5 linked regions of the Homo sapiens genome follow. The gene in region 1 interacts genetically with each later gene. Each region holds a gene or a part of one and is shown in the gene's direction. Other genes may lie near its edges. The genes, in order: LSM5, RIT1, EGFR, ATG10 and KRAS.

Region 1 (4,229 bases):
AACAAGGATAAGTAATAACAGCTCATGTTTAAAAGGGCTATGTGCCAGGTCCTATGCTGACCACTTTTCATAGATTATCTCAATTAATCTTCACATTAATCTTATGAGTAGATACTGTTGTCCCCATTTTTTCCAATGGGTATATTGAGACTTAAAAAGTTAAAATAACTTGCCCATTGTCAAATAACTGACCATGGAATTTGAACCAAAGTCATTTAATTCAAAATGAAGAAATTTAATCACGTAAACTACTGCTTCCCATAATTCTCAGCCTTGAGGAACTCAGTCTATGAAGGAATGATGGGTGCTTAATGACCATTTGTTGTATGAATGAATGACGTTCTTTGTGGCCGCTCATGTTTATTGTTTAGCTTTTTTTTTTTTTTTTTTTGAGATGGAGTTTCGCTCTTGTTGTTCAGGCTGGAGTGCAGTTGCATGATCTAGGCTCACTGCAACCGCTGCCTCTCGGGTTCAAGCAGTTCTCCTGCCTCTGCCTCCCGAGTAGCTGGGACTACAGGCGCACGCCACCACGCCCAGCTAATTTTTGTATTTTTAGTAGAGACGGGGTTTCACCCATGTTGGCCAGGCTGGTCTCGAACTCCTGACCTCAGGTGATCCGCCCGCCTCGGCCTTCCAAAGTGCTGGGATTACAGTCGTTACCACTGCGCCTGACCTAGACTGTTCAGGTTTAAGTTCCTAGGATACAAATATAAAACAGACTAGGGCCGATACTTTGCTGTTTTCAACACAGAAGTGGAAAGCATGATTTTACACTTCTGGAATAATTTAGAGTGACATCTGGTGGTTGCCTGTGAGACAAGAATTGTTGAAGAAACTGAATTTAAAAGCCTATAATAAATAAGACTACCAGACATAAAAAGATAAGAACGATGAATTAAAGTAGTAAAAAGTTTAAAAAACATATCTTAAATCCTCACTAAAGAAAAATTTTAAAAAATGCTAGTTGCAGATTTTCAATCCACTGGACTTTAAAAAGAAACAATAGATTCCTTAATGAGTAGTTGTAACGAAAATTGTAACAGTTAATTGATGGCAGGAAATACGAATTGATTTATACTGGTTTGAAGATTCTGGCTTGAGAGGAAATGCAACTTTACGGGGGAAGAAGACTCAAACGTTACAGGAACAATTTATTCACAAGGCAAAATATCTTCAACGTCTCTCCAAAACTTCAAGGGCATTATGGGTATCTGCCGAGATGGTAAAATGTCCAGTGGGCAGGAAATATTTCACCGGATCTCACTTGCCGGGGAAAAAAGCCAGTGAACGCGACCCACGCAGCTGACTAGATCGTGCGCTCGGCCTCAGATTGGTCGAGCCTGTTTGGGCTGCGGAAAAAGCGGAAGCGCGCTTTTCAAAGTCGTCCCACCATCAATGAAGGCAGGCCACTTCCGGCGTAGCCATGGCGGCTAACGCTACTACCAACCCGTCGCAGCTGCTGCCCTTAGGTAATCGCCGTCCTTTGGGGAGCAGGAACAGGGAGCTGACATTCAGGATTGGGGGCCGAGGGGCTGTTCCGAGGCAGGCCCTGGCCGAGTGTGGGGAAATGTATAAGACCAAATGCGGTTCGACTCTGAGCTCCAAGTCTTCGCGACAGCAGGCCGCACCTGCTCTTTAACGTGGTCGGGCTCCTCCAGGCAAGGACTTTGACTTCTCAAACCAGACCTTCACTGGAAAAGGTCCACATTTAGTGAACGCGTCGTCGGCCTACTTTGTTGTGAGCCCGCCTCTGCAGTGTTATAGGTAGTAGGCCTACTTCTCAGCCTGGCGTTTACGATCCCCAGATTAGATAGACCATGTTATGTATGTGGTTGGTTAGTGACACTAACACCCTGGTCCGGAATGAGCCTTAAATGAGGAATCTGGAAACCAGCTCTGTTTGTTATTTATTCATTCAATAAGTAGTAACTGAGTATCTATACACTAGATACCGTGCCTGGGCATTTTTCAATGATAAACCATAGCCATTGCCTTCAAATAGCACACAAGCCAGTGGAGGAGAGAACACTGGACAAGTAGACATCATGCCACATAATGCTAGGCTAGCTAAAGAGATGTTCAAGCTACCGTCAGAGCACAGAGGATAGACAGAGTTGGGAAAGGGAAGCAGTGACCGGAGAGTTTCCGGTGAATATAATTATACCTATCTCCTCTTATATTTTTGTAGTTGGTGAAGAGTGATTGAACTAGTGGTCGTGGCCGTGATTGAAAAGTTTTCATTCCTTCATGCCACAGACTCTTTTGGAAGGCTCATTATGTGCCAGATGCTGTGCTTGAACTGAGATTTGTATTATAAGACCTAAAGTTATTGAATGAATGTTTTTCCTGGTTTTTCTTTCACTATATGCAAGTAAGAGTGCCAGTAGGCACTCAAATATTTGTTGAAATAATGAATGGTAAAATAATATTTTTTCCCTCCTCAGAGCTTGTGGACAAATGTATAGGATCAAGAATTCACATCGTGATGAAGAGTGATAAGGAAATTGTTGGTACTCTTCTAGGATTTGATGACTTTGTCAGTATCCTTTTAAAAGGTGGTGGTGGTATAGGTTTTTCTTAAGTAATAACATAAGAACTATAGACAATCAGTATATTTGTGATTATTATAATAAAAATCAGTTCATTCTCAGGGAACTTATGATAATGTTTTAAGAGGTATGTATTGAAAGACGGTAAAGTTCCTATCAACAACAAGCATTTTGAATTTGAGCCATTGTATTAAACATTGTAATTAAAACTGAACAGGCGAGCCCAGTGGCTCACGCCTATAATCCCAGCGCTTTGGGAGGGCGAGGTGGGTGGATCGCTTGAGCCCAGGAGTTTGAGACCAGCCTGGGCAAGATGATGAAACCCTGTCTCCACAAAAATTACAAAAATTAGCTGGGCATGGTGATGTACACCTGTGGGTCCAGCTAATCTCCGGGGCTAAGGCAGGAGGATCCTTTAAGCCTAAAAGGTGGAGGCTGCAGTGAGGTGTGATTGTACCACTGCACTTAAGCCTGGATGACAGAGCGAGACTTTGTCTCAAAACAAAAACAAAAACAAAAAACAAAAGCTGAACAAAGGCAGAAGCTAGAGTAAATTCTGTATTTATTTTCTTAACACCAAATTTCAGATATGGTACTGGAAGATGTCACTGAGTTGTGAGTAGTGTTAAAGAATTGGGGGGAATCTCTTCTTAATTAAAGACAGTTTTACTACTTTTGAGTAAAATTATTTATGAGAAAACATTACCTCTTGGTGGAATAACGTTAAAGATAGACGTTTTATCTGTTTGCTTGTAAAATTGGATCAGAGTGTTATTACCTTAATGTAATTATTAGTAAACGCCTAGAATATTAGTGGAGACACAGTTTTAAGGTAGAAGATAACAAAAAGAGCCAGGAATTTTAGGGTTCAGGTCAAATAAAGGAACTGATAGTAAGAGCATTTAGGCTGGACATGGTGGCTCATTCCTGTAATCCTAGCACTTTGGAAGGCCAAAGGAGGAGGATTAAGCCTGGGAGTTTGAGACCAGCCTGGGCAACAAAGGGAGACCCCTGTCTCTATAAAAAATTTAAAAATTAGCTGGTTATAGTAGGGGGCAGCTGTAGTCCTAGCTGCTCTGGAGGGTGAGGATCCCTTGAGCCCAGGAGTTCTAGGCTGCAGTGAACTATGATTGTACCACTGTACTCAGCCTGGGCAACAGAGCAAGACCCTGTCTCTTAAAAAAAAAAAAACCCAAAAAACATTTCATTTCATATTTGATTTCCTGGGCAAGCTTTCACTTCTTTTTATGAAGCTCTGTCTGATAGACGTGGGTCTTAGTGTCAGTGAGTTCATTCTGCTGCTTTTAATGAAGGTTACATTACCTAGTGGATAACCTTTGTATCTGAAAATTGTGGATATAATTGCTCAACCTCAGTGTAATTTGTATACAAGGATAACCTTTTTAGGGAGGGTAAGTATTTCCAAAATGTTGGCTTTGATTTTCACTGTTTGTCCTGACTGTATTTTATCTATTCATTTAGTGAAATCACACCAGAAGGAAGAAGGATTACTAAATTAGATCAGATTTTGCTAAATGGAAATAATATAACAATGGTAAGACACATTGAAACTGTTTTATTTTGATGGGAGCCCATTTTTGGGGAGCAGTGATTACAGAACTAACCTTAATGTTGCTTGCTTGACTAAATGATCATGGCCCAGTGGTGCATAAGATGGGA
Region 2 (4,042 bases), on another chromosome or scaffold:
TTTTAAAAATTTTGTAAAAGTAGGGTCTCACCATATTGCCCAGCTTGGTCTCAAGTTCCTGGGCTCAAGCAATCCTCCTACCTTAGCCTCCCAAAGTTCTGGAATTACAGGTGTGAGCCACCAAGCCCAGCCTATTTATCTTTCTTAAAATAAAAAGTATGGGGAAAATTAAGATTGTGTATTTGATATCTAAAACTATTCCCTGTTCCAAAAAGTATCTTAAAAATAGACTAGAGACCGGGCACAGTGGCCGACGCCTGTAATCCCAGTACTTTGGGAGGCCGAGGTGGGCAGATCACCTGAGGTCAGGAGTTTACAACCAGCCTGACCAACATGGAGAAACCCCGTCTCTACTAAAAATACAAAATTAGCCAGGTGTGGTGGCGCATGCCTGTAATCTCAGCTACTCAGGAGGCTGAGGCAGGAGAATCACTTGAACCCGGGAGGCCGAGGTTGTGAGCCACAATCATGCCATTGCACTCCAATCTGGGCAACAAGAACGCAACTCTGTCTCAAAAAAAAAAGTAGACTAGAAATAGAATCATATCATTTGAAGGCAGAATAAGAAACCTTAGAAGTAATCTAGCCTAAAATTACAAAAATTAGTGCTGTATGCTTGAACACCTCCAGAATTGAGAAGCTTTCTTTGTGTTAAGGTGGTGGTGCATTCAGGTTTTTGGACAATTTAATTGTTTTTCACTGTTATCTTTTCTCACATTTTGCCCTTAAAGGTCACCAAGGAAGAAGGATTGGCCTTGGCCCGAGAATTCAGCTGTCCCTTTTTTGAGACATCTGCTGCATACCGCTACTATATTGATGATGTTTTCCATGCCCTTGTACGGGAGATACGTAGGAAAGAAAAGGAGGCAGTACTGGCCATGGAGAAAAAATCTAAGCCCAAAAACAGTGTATGGAAGAGGCTAAAATCACCATTCCGGAAGAAGAAAGATTCAGTAACTTGAAGAGAAGATGTGAAGTGTTTATCTGTGAACTGCAGTGCTGTATCAAAGCAGTCCAGTAACCTGCAGTACTGAGTATGGTGCTTGCTCTTTCACTTAACTGATAAGAGGGACATGCCTACTAGGAGTTTTTAATGATGTGGTATTTAAAGTATTGTCTCTTAGTTAAGTATGATTTATTAACCCAGTGGAGCACTGTCTGCTTTTAAATTGTCACATTAGAATTTGTTCTACCAATGTTTTGGGTTCTGTTGCGCTATTAATTAATGTAAATTTGTTTATACCCAGGAGAATATGTATACCATGTGTGTTTGACTAAGTTCACAAGGGAAGTTTTTGGCTCTGCACTCCACATTATCCTTTAATTTCAATTTCCTGGGACTATCCCAGAGAAAGACCTCAGTCTCTTCTATTCACACTATGCTTCCTAGAGACAGAACAAAAATCATGTAGGGAAATTGGGGCTAATGAGATCAGTGCCAAATTTCAGCAGATACCTGTGAGGCTGACACCTGTTGCAGACTATGGAGTGGTGAGATTTGGGAAAGTTGGGCTATATGTTTGCAGGGACTTAAAAAGGTAGGTTCAGAACAGTATTCTCAGTACAAGCTTCGCTTTTCTAAGAAGTACACATTTGGCCCAAATTCACCGGGATAAGTGAGAACAGCCAGAAGCATAAAATGTGATGAAGGTTTCTCCTGGGAACCTTATTTTACTCTTCATTTCAGGGTTTTCTTTTTTTTTTTACCTTCAAAGGTAGACATTTTGGGAATCATAACTGTATTACTAAACGTGTTTAATCAAAATTCATAGTTGGATCAGCCATTGCCTTGTACAGGTTTATTTTTTCCCCACAGACGCACACACCAACACATTTATATTCATTGCTTCCTCCCACTTTGTGCTCTGTAAAAGAGCTACAGCTGGCAAGATGTTTTTTCGGCCCTTCATCACTGATTGCATTTTCCATACAGAAGAGACATCAGGGGTGTGGGTAAAATTGTGTGTGTGCCTCCTTGACGTGGACAATCACTAGACTCAGTGCTCTGAGAAAATCTGCTATTTCTGTTGAATGGGTCAGTCTTAAAGCTTTAAAATTCACATAGGTGGAGTTTCCCATCTGAAGATTTCTTTACAAGGACTTTGCTAAGTTCATCTCAGGGTTATCTGAGCCTTGACCAAGTTTATCCTAAGGGAATACCACTTTGCTCCCTGTGCATAGTTTAGGAACTGTAGTCCTAGGAGGAAACAGCTTTAAATATTGGTAGTGAGTTGTCTAAGATCAGGACTGTTTTGATATCTGACCTTGTTATATGCGGAGAGTAAATGCAAAAATGCTAAGAGTAATGCATCATGTATTGAATATTAAGTGTCACTGAAGCAATGTTTGTGTTGACTAGAAACGTAAGATGACTTGTGTAGCACCTCTTTATAAGCACACAGCTCATCTTAATATTTTCCATTTTTATTAGAGGAAGTAGGACAGAGTTGTGTTTTTCTTTATAAACAAATGATAAACTAGCTTTTTTAAAAAGTGACTGTTAGAACTTTTTTAGCTCTGAGTAGTGGTCCCTTTTTAAACTCCTGGAAACATTTTTGTTACCAAATAAATCATGTTTTATGGTACTCAGCCATCCAAAAGTGAAAGACCTAGCATTTGATTCTGTGCAGGACACAAATCTCACAGGAACTATAGCACTTTGGAAAAGCATCAAAGTAGAAAAGAAATACAGTGCAATTCTATTATGAGAATGTTTTACATTTAAACTGGTTTAGCACCTTTTAAGTTTAAAGCCCATAGCTTCTTATTACTAGTGACCTAGGGAATTGTTATTAACATTAAGAGATATATATATATATATATATATATATTTTTTTTTTTTTTTTTTTTTTTTTTTAAATAGAGATGAGGTTTCACTATGTTGCCCAGGCTGATCTCGAACTCCTAGGCTCAAGCAATCCTCCCAATATGCTGGGATTACAGGCATGAGCCACCACCTGGCCCAAGCAAGAAATTGACACTATATAGTTATTTAAGGTAGTCAGGCAGTAGAAACATTGCCAGAAGGATAGAAAGGAATTTGGATTATATATAAGGAAAATAACAAATCGGTGTTTTTAAGACTATCACTGTCATATATTAGATCCTTGTATTAGTCCATCCATTAATATTAGTTCTATTCGTGGTGCTAGGTAGCTTGACAGGTATGATATGCATAAGTCATAGCTCTATTCTTAGTGTCATAAAGTGTAGCTAATTTATAAGCTCTAAGTAATCAGCTTTATCTAATTTGAGGGCATTAAAATTACTGCCTAGAACTTTGAGAAGAGAAAAATTCAGGGATAAGTTGAAAGGCACTGGAACTGTTCATGTCCATACCAGACCGGTAAATTATAAGATCCAGATGTTAGTGTCTAGAATTAGCTGTTTAGAATTCAGAGGGGACATATGTTTTAACTTTGTCATATATTAGCAAGAATTGGTCTACTGTGATGTTTGGGGAGGAGGAGGGGGGGATAATTTTTTTAATGCACTTGTATGTGAAGACAGTTTGTATGACATAATACAAAACTTTTAAACAACTTGGGCTTTCCTTTGCTTCCCTATCAGTGGGTAGAGTTTTTGGAATCATTGCAAAAGAGTTGTTTTCAGAAAAACATAACCATGAGATGTGATATTCTGGAAAATATGAATTCAAAAAATTTGAGTGCCCACCATGAACAAGACACCCATGTCAAGTGCTAGGGAGCATGCCATGGAATCCCCCTTCATTTGAAGAGATTACCTCTTGGGAGGAGACAGGAAAAACACATATGGAAAATGACAGCACATTTGCTACCTGATCAAGGGTTACTTAAAGTTGTTATAAGTAAATACACTAAATGAAAAGTGAAAGAATGATTTTTTTTTTTTTTTTTTTTTTGAGACAGAATCTCGCTCTGTCGCCCAGGCTGGAGTACAGTGGCGCGATTTCGGCTCACGGCAAGCTCCGCCTCCTGGGTTCACGCCATTCTCCTGCCTCAACCTCCCAAGTAGCTGGGACTACAGGCGCCCGCCACCACACCTGGCTAATTTTTTGTAT
Region 3 (3,521 bases), about 23 Mb from region 1:
GTGTCCCAGATCGCATTATTAAACCCTCCAGCGCATTAGAGCAAGCCTCAGTAAGGCGCAGGCCACATCGTGAACTAAGCAGCATCCGTGAGTGGGGCCCACCCAACTCCATCTCCCCCTCCCCGTCTGAACTCTCCTCTGGTGCTCGTCCTCACTGTCCGGCTAGCCAAAGCCTCAGCTGGGTCTAAGAGAGAAGCATGGTCTATTGGGCTTTGGTGTCAGGCAGACGTGGCTTCACACCCCTGACTCTCCACTTCTTCGCATCACCCAGGCAGCCGATCCACCTATCTCCTTCCATAACACAGGAATACCAAAACCAAGCTCACAGGATTGTCTCAAAGATTCAATAAAATATGTTGCAAAATACGCTCCCTAACACCTCACAGCAAGGTGCACACTCGATGAATGCTGCAGCTTCTTCCCTTTCTGTTTCCTCAGAAGCTATTTGAATCTCATGTAGGGGCTTTCAAGCATCAAAGGATGGTTCATGTTTTATTTTAAGGCACCCACATCATGTCATGAGGGGAGGCAGCTATAATTTAGAGAACCAAGGGGGATTTCATTATAACAAAATTGGCAAACACACAGGCACCTGCTGGCAATAGACCCCTGCTCCTATAGCCAAGAAGTGGAATAGCATCTCTACGGGCCATTCTAATAGCCTCAAAATCTCTGCACCAGGGGGATGAAAGAATGCATTTGCCAAGTCCTACAGACTCCAACTTCTACCGTGCCCTGATGGATGAAGAAGACATGGACGACGTGGTGGATGCCGACGAGTACCTCATCCCACAGCAGGGCTTCTTCAGCAGCCCCTCCACGTCACGGACTCCCCTCCTGAGCTCTCTGGTATGAAATCTCTGTCTCTCTCTCTCTCTCAAGCTGTGTCTACTCATTTGAACAAATTGAATTTTAGGGAAAATAACCATCTAGTGAAACTCACATGGATATGAAGTCAATTTTAACCAAATGGTAAAATCAAAATCAAAATAAATTAAGTGTATTAATTATTTTGTTGCATTGCAACAACTTGATTGTAAGCCTTTTAGGTCCACTATGGAATGTAATTAAATCAAAACTAAACCTAGTTGCTCTAAAACTAACGATTAAGACAAAAATTAAACACCTTCACAATATACCCTCCATGAGGCACACCACCTGCATTCAGGAAAAGTGGATGAGATGTGGTACAAGCATTCCATGGGCAACTTCTCTGTTTCTTTTTCAGAGTGCAACCAGCAACAATTCCACCGTGGCTTGCATTGATAGAAATGGGGTATGTATGAACACCTTATAAGCCAGAATTTACAGCTCTCCACTATGGCTCTATTTTACATGGAAAATGCCTTAACCTAAATAATTTTAACCCAGATAATCTTGAGTTTTCTTCCTGTGTGGGTTTTTCCCTGCACGGCTGTCACGCCTCACAGTGCCGTTCAAAGCGTGACTCCTGGACCAGTAGTAGCATCGCCTGGCCTTGTTAGAAACGCCATTTTTCAGGCCACTGCCCCAGTTTGACCAAATCAGGACCTCTGGGGGTGGCACCCAGTAGTCTATGTTTGAGCCACTTTCCAGGTGATGCTGATGTCTGTTGAAGTGTGAGGCCGTGGTCTAGACCGCACTGTGCCATGCAGAAACCACTAGCCACATGTGGCTACTTCAACTTAAATGTTAATGAGTTAAAATGAAATAAAATATAAAATTCAGTTTCTCACACATGTGAAGTGTCCAGTAGCCACACGTGGCTAGTGGTGACCGTATTGAAGAGCACCGCTCATAGCACACCTCCCTCACTGCGGAAAGTTCTGCTGTACAGCACCCAGCACAGCCCTGCTGCCCACCCTGCAGCCTGTGGCCCAGTAGCACCAGCACCCACCAGGGTGCAGACTCTCAGGCCTGCCCAACCTACTAATCAGAACCAGCATCTCAAGGAGATCTCGGGTGATTTTTGCAAACACTGAAGTTGGGGCAGCCCTGACCGGAGTAACCTTCCCTCATTTCCTCCTGCAGCTGCAAAGCTGTCCCATCAAGGAAGACAGCTTCTTGCAGCGATACAGCTCAGACCCCACAGGCGCCTTGACTGAGGACAGCATAGACGACACCTTCCTCCCAGTGCCTGGTGAGTGGCTTGTCTGGAAACAGTCCTGCTCCTCAACCTCCTCGACCCACTCAGCAGCAGCCAGTCTCCAGTGTCCAAGCCAGGTGCTCCCTCCAGCATCTCCAGAGGGGGAAACAGTGGCAGATTTGCAGACACAGTGAAGGGCGTAAGGAGCAGATAAACACATGACCGAGCCTGCACAAGCTCTTTGTTGTGTCTGGTTGTTTGCTGTACCTCTGTTGTAAGAATGAATCTGCAAAATTTCTAGCTTATGAAGCAAATCACGGACATACACATCTGTGTGTGTGAGTGTTCATGATGTGTGTACATCTGTGTATGTGTGTGTGTGTATGTGTGTGTTTGTGACAGATTTGATCCCTGTTCTCTCTGCTGGCTCTATCTTGACCTGTGAAACGTATATTTAACTAATTAAATATTAGTTAATATTAATAAATTTTAAGCTTTATCCAGATACTCATAACCTGCTAACACACACACATATACACACACATACACATACACACATATACACACACCACACACATACACAGACACCACACACATACCATACACAGACACATACACATGCACACACATATACACACACACCTCAAATACATACACACCACACACACATACATGTATACACACATACACACACCACACATACACCACAAAAACCCCACACACATACACATATACACACCACACACACCACATACACACACGTATACACACATATATACACACATACACCATGCATACATACACACCACACATACATACAGACACACCACACACACGTACACACAACACACAACACAGACACGTACACACACTACAGACATGTATGCACACATACACACACACCACACATACATACACACAGACACATATACACTACACACACCATTACATACACACGTACACATACACCACACACACCACACATACACACACCACACACACATACGCCACACACACACCACAAAAACCGCACACACATACAAACATATACACACTACACCACACATACACACACACACCACACACCACACACACACATACACACACCACACACACCACACATACACGCACCACACATACACACACGTAGACACACCACACACACCACAGAAACACACATTAACACACCACATACACATATGTATGTGCATATACACACCCACACCCCACACACACATGTATAAAGATTTAGATATATATAAAACATATGTTATATATATGTTGATGTAATATCTAATATCTATATATCTAATATGTAGTTTATTAGCTATCTAATATCTATGTCATATATATCAAAATCTTTATATATAAAAATATGTAGAAATCTTTATACATATGTTATATGTATATAAAGATTTAGATATATAACATATGTAAGTTATATATATGTTAGTGT
Region 4 (3,521 bases), on another chromosome or scaffold:
TTAGGTCAAATTACTACACTTAACAGCTGTGTTACCTTGGACAAGTTACCCTCTCTGTCTCAATTTCCTTATCTATAAAATAAAGAAAATCCTAGTAATTTACCTCAAAAAGTTGCTCTGAGGATTTGTTACTAGTTCTTAATACATAGTAATATATGCAATTTTAATTATTTTAATCCATACTAATTCTTTAAACAGTGGTTGTACAATTTATCACTGTTTTTTGTTATCCATTATTCTCTGATGTTCTTTTCAATGTGAATCTTTACTTAAAAATTTGATTACTTTGAGAAGAATGTGTATTCTGAAAAATAAAAAAATATTTGGTTACAAACTATTGAAGGCAAAGACTGTATTATACTTCTTTTTGAAAGTCTCTTAAACCAAGGCTGGGTACAGTGGTTCATGCCTGTGATTCAGCACTTTGGGAGGCTGAGGCAGGCAAATTGCCTGAGCTGAGGAGTTTGAGACCAGCCTTGGCAACATTGCAAAACCCTGTCTCTACAAAAAATACAAAAAATTAGCTGTGCATGGTGGTGCACACATGTGGTCCCAGCTACTCAAGAGGCTGAGGCGGGAGGATTGCTTGAGCCTGGCAGGTGGAGGTTGCAGTCAGCTGAGATGGTATCACTGCCCTCCAACCTGGGTGACATAGTGAGACCCCCCTCTCAAAAAAAAAAAGTGTCTCAGACCTCTCAGGATGATTTGGGGGCTCAGTGTAATATTTTTTTCTTCCCATCTTACTATCTAGTTTTCTTTTTCTTTTTTGTTTTTTATTGTACTTTTGTAGCTTAGAGTTTTAAATTTAAACTCAATTTTGTTCCAAAAGTATTTGAGGTAGCTTAAACTATATAATATATAATAACATACAAAATAAAGAGAATCAAGATCATAAAAATATGAAGCTTGAATAGAAAGATGTGATTAGGGTGAGTTATACTGAAAATATACTGTGAATGTTGTAGAGTTATTTATTTATTTATTTATTTTATCTTTTTTTTTTTTTGAGATGGAGTCTCACTCTGTCGCCCAGGCTGGAGTGCAGTGGCGTGATCTCGGCTCACTGCAGGCTCCGGCCCCCGAGTTCACGCCATTCTCCTGCCTCAGCCTCCCGAGTAGCTGGGAGTACAGGCGCCCGCCACCTTGCCCGGCTAATTTTTTTTTTTTTTTGTATTTTTAGTAGAGACGGGGTTTCACCGTGTTAGCCAAGATGGTCTCGATCTCCTGACCTCGTGATCCGCCCGCCTCGGCCTCCCAAAGTGCTGGGATTACAGGCGTGAGCCACTGCGCCCGGCCTGTTGTACAGTTATTAAAGGTAGGCCACAAAGTTCCAAGCTTCATGGTGGTCAAAGGAAAGAAGGAAACATATTTATTGCCCAGCAAAAACAGCTTCCTGTGTTAAAATAATTAATTGGGAGGCCATTGCCTGAGGAAGCTCCAGTGCCCTGGGTTCCTACATAAACAGACTTACACCAAACTCAGTGTAAATGGTTGTATTCTAGGAAAATGAAACTTTAGCTTAACCAATCAGAAACCATCAACTAACCTCTAACCACTGACTTTTACTGGAATGATCCAAGTAAGGCTACTCCACTTTGACCAATCACAGATTTTCTTGGCCTTGCTTCTGCCGTTCACTCTTCAAAAGCCTTCTAACTGTGTCCTTTTGGTGCAGCCCCATATTGCTTGCATTCTGGAGCTGACCAATTCATTAATATGCCTAGTGTTCCATTATTGGAACGCTAAGCTTGTGGGAGTTATTTATATCCTGCTCATGGTCATCGCCAAGGTCTGATTTTTCACAAAAAAAATTTGCAACCTCCAGCATAAATGGGTTAACCATTGTCTGCTTAAATAAACATTTTCTTGTTTTTGTTTTTTGAGACAGTATCTTGTTGTGTCGCCCAGGCTGGAGGGCAGTAGTGCAGTTATGGCTCACTGCAGCCTCAATTTCCTGGGCTCCAGCTATCCTCCCACCTCAGCCTCCCAAGTAGCTGGGACTACAGGCATGCACCACTATGCCAGGCTAATTTTTGTATTTTTTTGTAGAGGCGGGATCTCACCATTTGCCCAGGCTGGTCTTGAATTCCTGAGCTCAGGCAATCCACCTGCCTTGTCCTCCCGAAGTGCTAGGATTACTTTGCCTGACCTCAAATAAATCCTTTAAAATTTTAATGTGCCTTGGTTTATCTTTTAGCACCTAGTAAATATTTAGTGAGTGAAATGGAGATTGTGATCACAGATTTTAAAGGATACGCTGAGGCCCTAGAGTTAAATTCTCTAGACTTTGTTAATTCCTTACCTACTTCCCAGTATTTCTCAAAGGGAGCTCTACTGGCATTTTTACAGACAACTCTTCACTGTGTGGGATTGTCCTGTACATTGTAGGATGTTTATTTTACCTGGTCCCTCAGCACTAAATGGCAATGGCAAACTCTAACTTCTTTTTAACAATCCAATATGATCCCATTTATTTCCAAGCAGCCCCTTGAAGAGCGGGTTCCCCATAAAGTTGGGAACCATTAGACCTTATTTGCCCATACTCTTCTCCACCCGAGCTATGCTCCATCCACTGACATTTGTTTTATTTTTAAACCTTGCATTCTTTTCAGACCCTGTCTTTGCAGGAGCTCCTCAATCTTTTTGGAGTGACTTTGTCTCCACCTGGTTGGCCCTTACTCAAATTTCAAAATTCATTTCTTCAAGAATTGAATTCATGTGTTCAGAACTCCAAGTTTTGGAGTCTTCCCCAGTTTTGCCAGGAAGTTTGACATTCTTTTCTAGGAGGACACTCACAGCAAGCACTAGGGTATTGTAGGTACTGAGTGAATGAATGAAAAACTTGTGGAAATAGAAGGCACATTAGTCTCATCTCTGAACAAAGACTTTTGCAAGAAGAAAAATTTAAAGGGAATGTGCCTTTCATTACAAAAATGTCCAACCATTTCCTTTTTTTATTTTCCAAAATAAAAATATGGCACTTGGTAGTATATTTTAAAGACACTTTGCTCTGTAATCTGTATTCAGACTGGCACTGATTCTGTAGCTTCTGATATTGTGTTGGTCTTTTTTTTTGAGGCGGAGTCTTGCTCTGTCGCCCAAGCTGGAGTGCAATGGCATGATCTCAGCTCATTGCAACCTCTGCCTCCCAGGTTCATGCAATTCTCCTGCCTCAGCCTCCCAAGTAGCTGGGATTACATGTGCCCGCCACCACGCCCAGCTAATTTTAGTATTTTTAGTAGAGATGGGGTTTCACCATGTTGGTCAGGCTGGTCTCAAACTCCTGACCTCAGGTGATCCATCCACCTTGGCCTCCCAAAATGCTGGGATTACAGGCATGAGCCACTGCTCCTTTCTGTCTCTTCTTATTTTTTGGATACTTTTGGCCAAGGATACCCCATTATCTCCTTATTTCCTAATTCTGGATACTTGGCATATGTGCTGACTAGAGTTTGTTGTACTAGTCCTACTACCCACTGTTCAAAGGCAGCAAGAGAGTTTGAGCTGTGGATCAGCTCAAA
Region 5 (3,521 bases), on another chromosome or scaffold:
CAGAAAGAGACTCCATCTCTTAAAAAAAGTAAAAATAAAAAAATTTTGGCACAGGGACAGTGGCTCACACTTATAATGCCAGAACTTTAGGAGTCCACAGCGCGAGGACTGCTTGAGGCCAGGAGTTTAAGACCAGACTGGGCAACGTAATGAGACCCCACCTTTAGGAAATAAATACATAAATAAAAATTTGACAATGATAAACATATATAAATTAGCTTTTCTTAGTCCTGAAAAAGATAATGTTATGTGTATGTGTGAGAATGATTAGTTCTCATATGAGAAAAAAAGAATTCATTGCTCTGTGTAGGTTGTGACATTTCCTTCACGATTGAAATTAATTAATTTTTTTTTATTACTTATTTATTTTTAAAATAGAGACAGGTTCTTGCTGTGTTGCCCAGGCTGGTCTCAAACTCCTGGCCTCAAGCAGTTCTCCTGCCTCAGCCTCCCAAATTGCTGTGACTGTAGGTGTGAGCCACTGCACTGGGCCAAAATTACTTAATTTTAACAAGATGATGTAGAGAGGAGAGTTCATTGCAACATAAGCCTAGAATCTTTGTCAGAATCTTAGGAAGTAATGTTTTCAAATTCTGTGTTTTCACCATAAAATGTGTCTTCTCTGTGTCCATCACATGGTTTTTCATTGTTTTCTGCTTTACCATTTTAGTACCATTGGCATTTTTCTTCATTGTAAAAGTAGTAGAAATGGAGTAGATTACATAAGGATGTGATCAGAGGGAATTTATTCATTCAGGGTAAGGGAGTTAGATCCTCTTTTAAGATTCTATCACATTCTAAGGGTTTATGATTCTAAACTGTCAAGTAAATTGTCAAGTGCTGGCAAGCTACAGAATAATTTTTATTGTATCATTGGAAATTTTCCCCTCTATATGTGTTAAAGAGTTTAGCCTGAAGGGATACATACACATACATATATGTAATCAAACCTTGATGGTATTGTATTGCTGATAAATTATTTCTTACCACTTTTCCTTTCTCCTGTGGGAGAAACAAAAGCATATGTTTGTGTAGTATCAGTAATGATATTAGAGAGTGGGAAACATCAGTGAGTGCAGTTTGGGGACTTTATTGGAGACTTTCACTAGTGCTCAAATAAATAATGCTGGTTTTTATCCTACTGTTTGCTTAATGTGGACTAGCCTCTTATTCCCATTCTATGTTTACCTCTCTTAAAATATTGGTCACGCTTTCTTGAATTATAGATCTATTAGGAAAATTCATGAACTGTAGCTAATTTTCATTGTTCATGCTCCAGATTTATTTTGAAATATCGTTAATCTTAGTAGTACAGTAAAGGAGAAATACCACTTAACATTTTTTGTTTTTTTTTCTTTGAGACAGAGTCATGCTCTGTCACCCAGTCTGGAGTGCAGTGGTGCTATCTCGGCTCACTGCAATGCACTTCGCCTCTCCGGGTTCAGCAATTCTCCTGCCTCAGCCTCCTGAGTAGCTGGGATTACAGGCACCTGCTACCACACCCAGCTAATTTTTGTATTTTTAGTAGAGACAGGGTTTCACCATGTTGGCCAGGCTGGTCTGAAACTCCTCACCTCAAGTGATCCACCCGTCTTGGCCTCCCAAAGTGCTGGGATTACAGGCTTGAGCCACCGCACCCCGCCCACTTAACATTTTAAATTAATTTCAAGATAATATCACTTGAATATTTTTACACATATAATTTTTTTAATACATTTATTTACACAGTTTATAATATCCTACAAAGTGATTACAATGAGTAAAAACCCAGTTTTCATTGTTCCTAAAGTGGCTTGATTTATACAACTTAATGTGTTGGGTATTTGTTTCTAAGACTCCCTCTGCTGTCTAGGTTTGGAAGTATTGTGAGGTTAACAGATTTTCTTTTTATAGTTACTACTCAGTTGAACAGGCTTTAAAATACAGAGAGAATCATATTTTTTCTTCATTTTTTGCTTTTATTTATATTTTTCTTTTAATTGGAGACATGACAAGAATTGACTTGTGTATGGATCTTGCATAATTTAAGTACTGCAGGTTTAAAATCTACTACCAGTTTGAGAGTGCCATTTTTCACACTGTAGATTATTAGGTTGAAAAGTATTATGGCTTAAAATCGCTTTTAGCCATTAAATTTAAATAACCTTGCTTTAATCATAAATAGATGGTGGTCACAATGACTAACTGTTAAACTCTTTGAAGACAGGATATTTGGCTTTATATGGCAAGCTTTTGAATACAACAGAAATTAAAACTTTATGGGATAGAAAGAATCTCCTCCAAATTGGTAAACTATAAGACCTTTCAAATGATTTAGCTAATTTCTCCACAAATCTGAGGTATTAGTGTTTTTTTTAAAGTGGTATTCTCCTGTGTTGGGGTCACTTTAAACCTTTTTCTTAATGATAAATATATGAATTGAAACTAATCCCTTAATATATATCATTTGAAAACTGAAATAATATGTTTAGATACTGTTTACTTGTTGATAAATTATTGGAATAGGATGTTCGAATACTGTTTACTTCTTGGTAAATTTTTAAATCCAATGGATTTTACGTAAGTATAGAACTGGAGCTCAAATACTGTTACTGTGTGTGAAGATATATGAACATAGTTTACAGTTGCATGGCTTATATCTAAAGTCCAGAAACATAAGGACAATTAAGTGTACACACACACACATGCATTTGGATTTTGATGACTTAGGTTTGCCAATGTGGAAAAAATAGTAGCAAATTAAGTTCTCCTGTGAAAAAGTCGTTACCTTATTTAAAATTCTGTGCCATTGGTTATCCTTGTCTTTTGTGAAAATTAGTGTTCCTGTTTATAATATTGACAAAACACCTATGCGGATGACATTTAAGAATTCTAAAAGTCCTAATATATGTAATATATATTCAGTTGCCTGAAGAGAAACATAAAGAATCCTTTCTTAATATTTTTTCCATTAATGAAATTTGTTACCTGTACACATGAAGCCATCGTATATATTCACATTTTAATACTTTTTATGTATTTCAGGGTGTTGATGATGCCTTCTATACATTAGTTCGAGAAATTCGAAAACATAAAGAAAAGATGAGCAAAGATGGTAAAAAGAAGAAAAAGAAGTCAAAGACAAAGTGTGTAATTATGTAAATACAATTTGTACTTTTTTCTTAAGGCATACTAGTACAAGTGGTAATTTTTGTACATTACACTAAATTATTAGCATTTGTTTTAGCATTACCTAATTTTTTTCCTGCTCCATGCAGACTGTTAGCTTTTACCTTAAATGCTTATTTTAAAATGACAGTGGAAGTTTTTTTTTCCTCTAAGTGCCAGTATTCCCAGAGTTTTGGTTTTTGAACTAGCAATGCCTGTGAAAAAGAAACTGAATACCTAAGATTTCTGTCTTGGGGCTTTTGGTGCATGCAGTTGATTACTTCTTATTTTTCTTACCAATTGTGAATGTTGGTGTGAAACAAATTAATGAAGCTTTTGAATCATCCCTATTCTGTGTTTTATCTAGTCACATA

What was found.
Region 2: changes in LSM5 (region 1) and RIT1 together harm fitness more than expected from each alone (negative genetic interaction), as found in Homo sapiens cells (one large-scale study listed by BioGRID).
Region 3: changes in LSM5 (region 1) and EGFR together harm fitness more than expected from each alone (negative genetic interaction), as found in Homo sapiens cells (one large-scale study listed by BioGRID).
Region 4: of LSM5 (region 1) and ATG10, changing one enhances a phenotype caused by changing the other (phenotypic enhancement), as found in Homo sapiens cells (one large-scale study listed by BioGRID).
Region 5: changes in LSM5 (region 1) and KRAS are lethal when combined (synthetic lethality), as found in Homo sapiens cells (3 studies listed by BioGRID, with this or other methods).

Annotation. Positions count from the first base shown.
Region 1 is NC_000007.14:32,487,560-32,491,788, reverse strand, and holds the start of LSM5 (U6 snRNA-associated Sm-like protein LSm5), read left to right. Parts: upstream 1-1,408; 5' UTR 1,409-1,423; coding exon 1,424-1,469; exon of another isoform or gene 1,470-1,764; intron 1,765-2,444; coding exon 2,445-2,540; intron 2,541-3,136; coding exon 3,137-3,164; intron 3,165-4,031; coding exon 4,032-4,104; intron 4,105-4,229. UniProt on the Homo sapiens protein: Plays a role in pre-mRNA splicing as component of the U4/U6-U5 tri-snRNP complex that is involved in spliceosome assembly, and as component of the precatalytic spliceosome (spliceosome B complex).
Region 2 is NC_000001.11:155,897,308-155,901,349, reverse strand, and holds the end of RIT1 (GTP-binding protein Rit1), read left to right. Parts: intron 1-731; coding exon 732-962; 3' UTR 963-3,542; downstream 3,543-4,042.
Region 3 is NC_000007.14:55,200,507-55,204,027, forward strand, and holds part of EGFR (epidermal growth factor receptor isoform a precursor), read left to right. Parts: intron 1-681; coding exon 682-849; intron 850-1,228; coding exon 1,229-1,276; intron 1,277-2,010; coding exon 2,011-2,119; coding exon of another isoform or gene 2,120-2,259; exon of another isoform or gene 2,260-2,570; intron 2,571-3,521. UniProt on the Homo sapiens protein: Receptor tyrosine kinase binding ligands of the EGF family and activating several signaling cascades to convert extracellular cues into appropriate cellular responses.
Region 4 is NC_000005.10:81,975,013-81,978,533, forward strand, and holds part of ATG10 (ubiquitin-like-conjugating enzyme ATG10), read left to right. Parts: intron 1-1,180; exon of another isoform or gene 1,181-1,315; intron 1,316-3,316; exon of another isoform or gene 3,317-3,521. UniProt on the Homo sapiens protein: E2-like enzyme involved in autophagy. Acts as an E2-like enzyme that catalyzes the conjugation of ATG12 to ATG5. ATG12 conjugation to ATG5 is required for autophagy. Likely serves as an ATG5-recognition molecule. Not involved in ATG12 conjugation to ATG3.
Region 5 is NC_000012.12:25,209,415-25,212,935, reverse strand, and holds part of KRAS (GTPase KRas), read left to right. Parts: intron 1-757; coding exon of another isoform or gene 758-758; intron 759-3,024; coding exon 3,025-3,141; 3' UTR 3,142-3,521. UniProt on the Homo sapiens protein: Ras proteins bind GDP/GTP and possess intrinsic GTPase activity. Plays an important role in the regulation of cell proliferation.